Linked DNA regions of Homo sapiens. The protein of the gene in region 2 purifies or fractionates together with the protein of the main gene of each other region. This does not show direct contact. Each region holds a gene or a part of one and is shown on either strand. Other genes may lie near its edges.

Region 1 (7,537 bases), on a different chromosome or scaffold from region 2:
GTACAGAAACCCCACCGAAATTCCTAAGTGTGACAGAACACATCCCAAGTGTTCCTACCTTATTCTCATTGAATTAAGGTTTTCTCTCCCTCTTTTTTTATTTACTATTTTATGTGAGTTATTGAGGGATGAAAGGGCACTACATGCATTAGATGTATCATAATTAGAACGGAATAATCTGAACCCTTTACCATGTGGAAACAAATTTATGCTAACGTGGTATATTCAGAGTTGTTTTTTTTAAAAGAGTAACATTAGGGATTTTGTGCATTACTGCTAAGTTGTTTGGTTTCTCTATGCCTATACCAAATTGATCCACCTTACAGAACAATTTTAGCATACAATTCATACTGTTATACATTTTCTTTCTTAAAGCTCTCAGAACACACTGGGAAAAGGGATTTCTAAGAGGCACTGAAAATCAATGAGAAAACAGATTTGTCTAATGGAAACTCAAAGTCAGTTGTGCTAGAAAACAGCTGTCCATTTTATTTATAAGCAGCACATACCTTAGCACAGGAATGGATGAATTTATGTTCTATAATCAGAGTTGCCGTAGCAACAATCTGTCCTAGAGTCACATCTTCTACAACTGTAACATAATAATCCCCAGATTTCTTCATATGCTCAAAAGATTCTGTGGAAATTGGATAACAAAGTGTTACATAGTAGACATTCAATTTTATGGGGAGCCAGAAAAATATTAGGATTAGCTGACTTAATTACTAAATGTTTAAAGCTGTTTTACCATAGTAATTTACCTTCCATTTCTAAAGAAAATATTACCAAGTAGTTGAAATATCAGCAATTAGTATCAATTGGAATATAACCTACACATTCAAAATATCTGCTAGCAAAATAAAGACTAATATAGCTATTTTAGATGAACAACACTTAAAATACAAGTAAATGGCTGATGTTGCCACTTCCATGACTAATGAAAACTTCAATTTCTTCATTTACTTTAAATAGATCTCTTTAACTTTTATACTCAATAGATATTCAAATATAACCTTTGCACATTTTAACAAGAGCATGTTTACATGGCTCAATTCTAGAATTTTTAGTCTTTTGCTTTCAAAATATTTTTACAAAATATATTTTAATTTTCCCTTTGTGATGGAAAGTGTTTTGTGATAACATGACTTGCTCTTGTTTGCTTTGAGAGCACCTTGCAAGGAAGTAAAAACATATCTGTTTCCAAGTAACTTTTCCAAGTCACATAGCAAATAGGTGCAAAGATACTTCCCCTCAAATGGATTTTCAGTACTATTGCTGAAATAACATGGTTTCTCATCTAATTCATGTGCATGCAAAGAAAAATTCAGGAATAAAAATTGAGGCTAATAGTCTCTCATATTGTTAATTTCTATGGTCTCATTCCAGATAGAGATCTAAAATGGGAAAAAGAAATTCAGTGAATGAAAATAAACAATGAGAATCAGAATGATGGTCCTCATTCTCAGGAGGGTCAAATAGAATTCAATACAAAATTCCCTATTATAAGGAAATGAAGAATTGTAATTCCTCAGCTATTAAATATTACTAAATATTTAGTAATGATAATAATACTTCATTTCCTTTATAACAGGAAAAAGCAGTGGTAGAGCACTGGACAGAATTAAGGTTTTATTCCTCACCGTAGCAATAACTACCTGTGATCTTGGGCAAGTCTTTGGATCTCTCTAAATTCCTATTTTCTCCTATGTCTAAAAGAAGAGGGGCAGGGGACGGGTGGACTAACTCTTAAGATGCCTGCTAACCTTAAACTTCAATACAAATAAACCCCAAAATAAATTTAAAGCGTATAGTCTTGCTTTTTTGATTTGGTAATGAAATTTCTGTAAATAACCACAGTAAGGGAAATACTACAATAAAAAAACGAAAAACCTCTAGAGCTAACACCTAGGTCCTATGGTACAATAATTATCTAATAAAGTAGTCAGATAGTTTGCAAAAACAAAGTTACTGGTACATTTGGATTCTAGAACAACTCAGCCACATTAAACATTTGTATAAAACAGCTAATTTGTTCTTTGAATAATTTCCAGCTATTTGAACAAAAACAGAAGTGGGCACTGAACAGCTCTAAACAAAAATGAAATCATGTTTCCCTTTATTTCAGGAAAAAGAGGTTATAGTACTTACTCATAAATTGTTCAGGGCTGACAACTCCAGTCTCTGTTAGCTGACCCAATACCTTAAAAAAACCTAGTTTTGAAAAACAGATTTCAAATTACGAGAATAGCAAAAGGAAGACAGTATGAAAATAAGCAATATATTAAGCAGGTGGGCTTACAGGCAATTATTTTTTCAGAACTTTCTATAATCTTTTAATTATTAGAATAAAGTGAACCCTATTCTTCTATAATCACTACATATAACAAAAATAACAGGTTTTACCAGTGCTTCTGCCTGCATAAGATGTTTTAAATAGTGCTGACCTTAATATCCAGTATTTATAGACCCAGAACATACATTCTTCAATGTATTATATTTTACATTAAGTTCAATGCAAAGGGTGCCAGATTTTCCCAAATATGTGATTTGGTTTTACTTAAAGGTGCAACATGGCTAAATACAATATTCGTAAATTAAAGTATAAGTAACACTGTTGAGATTACACTCTTTAAAATTGTAATTTCTAGTGAATTTCATTAGTGTTACCGGAAATTGATGTGAACAGTGCACCTGGAATTTTGAAAATCTTAACTTTCCTACACTCAATAATTAGGCCAAAATTAGGCCCTTCAGGCTGTCTAGCAAAGAGATAATTGTGAAAAGGACAAAGTTGACTTTTAATTACCAAAGTTTAAGGAAGTTAACTTGGAGAATTTAGATGTTAAAAAAGAAATAACTGTATAAAAACCCTTTCAATTTATCCAAGGAAAATTATTTCCACCTTCATTCCCCAACCAGCTTCTTAAGATCCCTCCTTATGTGTCATCATACATGATAATTTAATTTTTGTTTATGAGAAATCTTTTTGGCTTAATTAGGAAGGAGTGATGTTGTATTTAAGTCATTTTAAATATTTCACAGTAATATTTGGTCTTAGCCATGACACACACTCATTGGTATTGAGTGTCCATCACTTTAAAAACTAAGTATTATACAAAAAATAGTCCAAAAGTCAAATATTTAAAAAAAATTATCTGCATCATAATGTTTAGAGAAAAATGGAAGGCTAACTCTAATTTTACACAGGATTTTGTACATTACCTCTATTTAAGTCAGCAGTACAAAGAGGCCTCAAAACCAAGCCTTCTCCAGGATGTGTTGGGGAAATGGCTGGAGAAAATGTAGCTGTATTCTGACTCCAGTCCACTTCTTTGAGTAGACTTGGGTCAAACATAGGAGTTTCATCAGGTTTCATTTTTCTAGTAAGGTCTAAAATAAAAATTTGAATATTAAGTCACTTTATTTAATAGAAGGAAAATTATGATTGTTGAGAAAGTTAATATAAATTAATGCAATTAGAAGCATTCTTTAGCACATATGCGAGATATTTTACTGCAACCCAGCCTGAATCTAACATTAAATTCCACAACTACAGATAAATAGAAAAATCATGCCTACTATCAGATAAAAAAATGGCTAAGTGACTAAATTAGTAAGTTTTAAACTATAAAATCCCATTTATTATCAAGTCTTTTTTTTTTTTTTTTTTTCAGACAGTCTCACTCTGTTGCCCAGGCTGGAGTGCAGAGGCGTGATCCCGGCTCACTGCAACCTCTGCCTTCTGGGTTCAAGTGATTCTCCTCTTTCAGCCTCCTGAGTATCTGGGATTATAGGCACGTGACACCACGCCCGGCTAATTTTTTTGTATTTTTAATAGAGACGGGATTTCGCCGTGTTAGCCAGGCTGGTCTCAAACTCCCGACCTCAGGTGATCTGCCCGCCTCGGCCTCCCAAAGTGCTGGGATTACAGGCGTGAGCCACTGCGCCCGGCTATTATCAGGTCTTTTAAAACATGTTTTTCCTCTGGGTTGGTGCTACTAAATGAATAGCTGACTTTTCATGGGCTCTTAAATTTTTTACATTATGTTCTTGGATTTTATTATTGAGCCAAGAAGGCATCTGTTTCAACAGGAAATTGCAAGGGGAAAAAAATTTTTTTTAAAAAAGTAATCTCTTAGTCTTACTTGCCAATAAAGAAAACTTTCAGCTGTGCACGGTGGCTCACACCTGTAATACCAACACTTTGGGAGGCCGAGGTGGGCAGATCACCTGAGGTCGGGAGTTCGAGACCAGCCTGACCAACATGGAGAAACCCCCATCTCTACTAAAAATACAAAATTAGTCGGGCGTGGTGGCGCATGCCTGTAATCCCAGCTACTCGGGAGGCTGAGGCAGGAGAATCGCCTCAGAACCTGGGAGGCAGAGGTTGTGGTGAGTTGAGATTGCGCCATTGCACTCCAGCCTGGGCAATGTAAGAGTGAAATTCCCTCTCAAAAAACTTACTGGGCATGTAGCCTTTTTTTTTTTTTGAGATGGAGTTTCGCTCTTATTGCCCAGGCTGGAGTGCAATGATGTGATCTTGGCTCACCACAACCTCCGCCTCCCAGGTTTAAGCAATTCTCCTGCCTCAGCCTTCTGAGTAGCTGGGATTACAGGCACCTGCCACCACGCCCAGCTAGTTTTTTTTGTATTTTTAGTAGAGACGGAGTTTCGCCATGTCAGCCAGGCTGGTCTCAAATTCCTGACCTCGGGTGATTCGCCTGCCTCAGCCTCCCAAAGTGCTGGGATTACAGGTGTGAGCCACCATGTCTAGCCACATGTAGCTTTTTTTTTTTTTTTCAATGAACCATGAATAGAAGAAAATTGATGAACAGGCTCAAATTAATTTTTTTTTTTGGCATTCTCAGAAATACTTTACCTTGGCTATGCTAGATATACACTGCAGGATTTTGTTTTCACAGCAGATTTTCTAAAAATCTGTGGTATGGACCAGGCATGGTGGCTCGTGCCTTTAATCCCAGCACTTTGAGAGGCAGAGGCAGGTAGATCACCAGAGGTCAGGAGGTCAAGACCGGCCTGACCAACATGGCGAAACCCTGTCTCTACTACAAATACAAAATTAGCCAGGTGTGGTGGTGGCCACCTGTAATCCCAGCTACTTGGGAGGCTGAGGCAGGAGAATCACTTGAACCCAGGAGGTGGAGGCTGCAGTGAGCTGAGATCACACCATTGCGTTCCAGCCTGGGCAACAAGAGTGAAACTCCGTCTCAAAAAAATTAAATTAAAATTAAACTGTATAGTGTTTCTCAGTTGCATCTAAGCAGCTTAAAAATAGCTGGTGTTTTTCATGCTATTGAAAAGTGATCATGATATTTCCCCCTCTTTTTTGAACATTTAGAAATGAGCAGGTTCTCACTAGTTGTAATGTTTTAAAACTGAGACTAAATAACAGAGAAGTAACGATAGGAAGGATGAAAAACAAATCATACAAAGCATAAAACTGGGGCCAGGGGGCTTCTGTGCAGCACAGAATTGCTAAAAGAAACAGATGCTTCCCAACAATTAAAAGTTGAGTATTCCTTATCCAAAATGCTTGGGACCAGAAATGTTTCAGGTTTTGGATTTTTTTTTTTTTTTTTTTTTTTTTTTTTTTTCAGATTTGGGGATATTTGCATATACATAATGAGATATCTTGGGGATGGGACCCAAGTCAAAATTCATTTGTGTTTCATATACATCTTATACAGATAGCACAAATATTTTACACAATATTTTAAATAATTTTGTGCATGGAAAAGTTTTTGTACATTATACCAGATGTGGAATTTTCCACTTGTGGCATCATGTTGGCCCTCAATAAAGTTTCAAATTTTGGAGTGTTTTGGATTTTTGGATTAGAGATCCAAAAAAAGCAGTCCCCAACTTATTTCTATATCCAGTTAAAGAAACCATATTTTAATGAGAGAACAATTTGCCCAATAACCTAACCCCCAATTGTTCCTTATTTCATAAGTCACAGTATGCTTTAGGGCAAATATTCTTAACTTTTCCTTAAAGATGGATAATAAGTTTCTGCCTGTATAATCCTATGTAACTATATAAGCAATGCTGCAATATACTAGTTATGGGAAGGTAGTGTGATGTGATGTAACAACAGAAGTTAACACTTGCTCAGCACTTCTTATGTGCCAGACTGTTGAAAGAGCTTTACTAATTCATTTATTTCAACCATCCTACAGGTTAGGAGTGGTTATTATCTACATTTTAACAGATGAGAAAATGTTAAGTAACTTGCCCAAGGTCACAAAATTAGCGGAGCCAGGATTTAAACCTAGGCATAGAAAGAGCATGAGCTTTGGATTCATACCTGGTGTTCAAATGTCAACTGTGTGATATGTACTACGGTAATTAAGCTTTTAGAATCTAGTTTCCTCATTTGTAAAATGGAGATGAAATTACTGGGAGAATTAAATGCATTACTGTATGCAGTCATGCACTTAGCAGTGCCTGGAATACTGCAAGTACTTAATAAGATATATGCTAGTTAGCAATAAATTTAAAATTAAAGTTTATAAATTCTTGTTCATTTTTTTTTACCTTTAATTCATGAATCAGGCACTGTGCTGGTTACAGGAACTACAAAAAGAATGACAGGCTCTTACGTTTATGTTATACCAAAAGTTAGCATTCTTGGGTAGAAAAGAACGTAGTTTATAATGTAGACTGCTGAGAGGTCCCCCCAGCCACACACACACAAAATGATTCAAATTATGCTGCATACACTATACCCAGTTCTAACAATATTAAGGAAAATATAGAAATTGTGATGATCAAGCAGTCATTTCAAATTTAACAAGTTTAATAGCCATTCAAAATAGGTTTTTTGTTTTGTTTTATTGTTTTGAGACAGGGTTTTACTCTGTTGCCCAGGCTGGAGTGCAGTGGTGCAATCATAGCTCACTGCAGCCTCAAACTCCTGGGCTCAAGTGATCCTCCTACCTCAGCTTCCCACATCAGCCTCCAGAGTAGTTGTGACTACAGGCTCATACCACCACGCCTGGCTAATTTTTGTATTTTTAGTAGAGATGGGGCTTTGCCATGTTGGAAAGGCTGGTCTTGAACTCCTGACCTCAAGTGATCCTCCAGCCTCAGCCTCCCAAAGTTCTGGAATTACAAGTGTGAACCAGCATGCTCAGCCAAAACAAGTTTTTAATAGATGAAATTGAGTCCACGTGTTTTAGTGTTTTGTCTAAATTGGACCCTTGAGGTTTTTGTGTGTAATCTCATCTGAATGGTAGGTAGCAACATTGTTTTTCAGGTATGTAGATAAACAGGCTAAGTATTAATAAAGTGAAATGTGTACAGTATTAAAAATGTAAATTCCTCGAGGCAGCACACTATTTAAACATTTTGGTCTTGCTATTAAACATATAGTTGTAAATACAAAGTTCAAAGAAAACTCAAAAGAGAATTTAAATCAACCTTAACCACATTTAACTAGATTCCTTTTTCCTATAAAGTTGTCTGTGTTTACAATAAAAATGTGGTCTAGAAAACATGAAAAATAGGGTTAATA
Region 2 (2,581 bases):
CCTGCCCATAGCATGGAGGGAACTTCCACTGAGCCTCCTCTGTCCACTTCTGGCGCCTCTCACTAAGCCCTTTGCTCAGCCTCCCACAGGAGGAAAAGTTTATTGGGCGGGTCAGTGTCGACCTTTCTGCACCTGTCTGCTGGTGGGCTGGTACTGTGGCTGTGCTTGTGGGTATAGCTCTCCTTTTCTGCCCAGTCTTCCTGCTCCCTGTCCCCACAGAGAGCACCCTCAAGGCCAGCCCACTGCACATCCTCTGGCTCCAGCTCCTTGCCCGTGTGCCTGACTGGGAAAGGGCATTCCAGGGCCTTCCTGCAGATCTAGCCACACCTGGCTTTCCTGGCAGAACACCTGGGTGTGCAGCATGGGTTTTGTGTTCAGGGAATTACTCTTCGGATTTGACCTGGTAGTGTGGATCATGTGGATTATCAACATTTACGAAAGTATATTTACGAGAATATGGTGAGCAATAGCACCATCAATGAAAAGGCATTGAGAAGACATTTTTTTTTAAAACAAAGTTCACTTTATTACATTAATTTTACACACTAAAATAATATGAAATGCAGACTTGTTTAAATTCTCTTGCTGATTCTCTTGAAGACAATGTCACCCAATGTCATGGTCTGAAAGCCAGAAAAGAAATTATGAAGTGTTCATCTGATGTTGTATTGTAAAAAACAAAATTAAGCATAAAAAACAAAATTAAGCTTAAAAAACAGCACCAAATATGTTGGCATATGAAACAATTCAAAAATTCGTCTGGTTTCCTGTAGGACCGGAGGAAAGGTTGGCAATGTTTTCCAAAATCCTATGCCAAGTCTTTGTCACTTCTCCTCCTCACCTGGAAAGTCCTCCTGCCTTTGACTGAATTCTTTTCTACATCAATGACTGTTATAGCAAGACCATCCAAACCAGCCCAATCTAATTTCTCAAAATTTCATTGAGTACCTACTATGCACCAAATACATGTTGAGCACCAAGGATACATGTACATGGACACAACTAGGCACACAGCCTGGAAGGCAGTGGGTAGTGCATAATTGTCCTCCTATAGCTGTGAAGCATATAAAAACAGTGGATGCATCAGCTTTTGAGTTTTTAAGGATGTTTCCTCCACCCCTGCCAGTTCTCTTGAATAAGACTGCTGGAATGACATACCATGTCATCAGGGTGAAAAGGAGCCCCTCAGTTTCAGCAGCAATGCAATAGTTGCTGCTTGATGGGTTTGAGCCCTGGATTTAACATTTATTAGCTGATGACTTGGACAGGTCAACCTGTCTATTGAATCCCTCATCCAGCCTCCCTCGAAGGAGACAGGAGGATTAGGTGAGATGGAACCTATCAAAGGGCGTTGGCCAGGACTTACTGCAGGATAGCTCATCTCCTGCTCCCCTGCTCTCCTGGGAATGTGCTGGGGCGGAGGTGGAAACTGCACATTGGGTGGTTGATGCTCACACTCTCTCTAGTTTAAGAATTTTTCCATTTGAATAGAGTGATGACAGCGCCCTGAGGCAGTGTTCTGTTGTCTGTGACTCCCTAAAGCATATTCTGGGGGCAAAGAAGAGTCAGGGGGACATACCTGCAGGAGAAACACTGCACCATTCACCCCCAAATAGGGTACAGGATGTGGCTGGCAGCCAGGCACCAAGGCTGACTGCATAACTGGACTGTGCCAGGCTTGTAAGCTGCCATAATATGACCATGAATGGGATTCTCTTTATAAACGCTAAATGGGCAAAGGCATTTATGAAGCACCCTGGGCATGCAGGGCAGGTGGAGGCCTCTGTGGCTGGTTGGTTGCGCTGAGCAGAAAGGATTAGTGATAATGTGTGTAAACTGCCTGGGACATGATGGATCCTCAGTAAGTGCTGGCAGATACTGACCACAGGAAAGAAGTTTGGGGGTTGGAGGGTGGAGGGGTGGCATTAGGGTATGTGAGCCGCTCCCCATGCTTCACCTCCCCTCTCCCCTCAAGCACTGGGAGCCACACGCTCAGAGCACCACCAACTTACATTGGTGATTATGTCGCCGTTGAGTTCGGTCACAGACTTGATGTTTTTGAAAGTTGTCACCAGTTTATTGTCACCTTCCAACTGAACCACTGTCTGCAGGGAACAGAGAGGTGACCTGTGAGGAAGGGGTGGTGGGGGGCAAGAGCCTTGCTAATGAAGTTGCTTCCTTTGCACAGGTCTCAGCTCATAACAACCAAAATGCTCTGGTTCCTATGATCCCAAGCCTCTAGTTCTCTGGCTCCAAATAGAAGTGAGGTGCATTTAAGAACTAAATAAAATGTCACGACTTCTTTTGTCAGAACTTTAATTCATGGCATGTGATCTAGAAATGAGCATGGAACACCTAAGTGGCCCCAAATACAAATGCTAAAATCAAATCAAGTAAAATCTCAATTCTCCCAAGCTAATGGAGGGAGGTAGTGGCAAAATTCAAATATTGACCAGTAGAGAATACATATTTTGCTTTGGTATGTATTCTTCTTTTTTTTTTTTTTTTAATTGAGATGAGGTCTTGCTATGTTGCCCAGGCTGGTCTTGAACTCCTAGGCTCAAACAGTCCTTTCACTTCA

Evidence for each region.
Region 1: the proteins of FABP1 (region 2) and GNPNAT1 purify together in Homo sapiens (affinity purification with mass spectrometry; 2 studies listed by BioGRID and IntAct, with this or other methods). This does not show direct contact.

Annotation. Positions count from the first base shown.
Region 1 is NC_000014.9:52,781,275-52,788,811, forward strand, and holds part of GNPNAT1 (glucosamine 6-phosphate N-acetyltransferase), read right to left. Parts: intron 6,598-7,537; exon of another isoform or gene 6,559-6,597; intron 3,391-6,558; 5' UTR 3,377-3,390; coding exon 3,223-3,376; intron 2,212-3,222; coding exon 2,149-2,211; intron 638-2,148; coding exon 510-637; intron 1-509.
Region 2 is NC_000002.12:88,122,482-88,125,062, forward strand, and holds the end of FABP1 (fatty acid-binding protein, liver), read right to left. Parts: intron 2,106-2,581; coding exon 2,013-2,105; intron 624-2,012; coding exon 573-623; 3' UTR 501-572; downstream 1-500.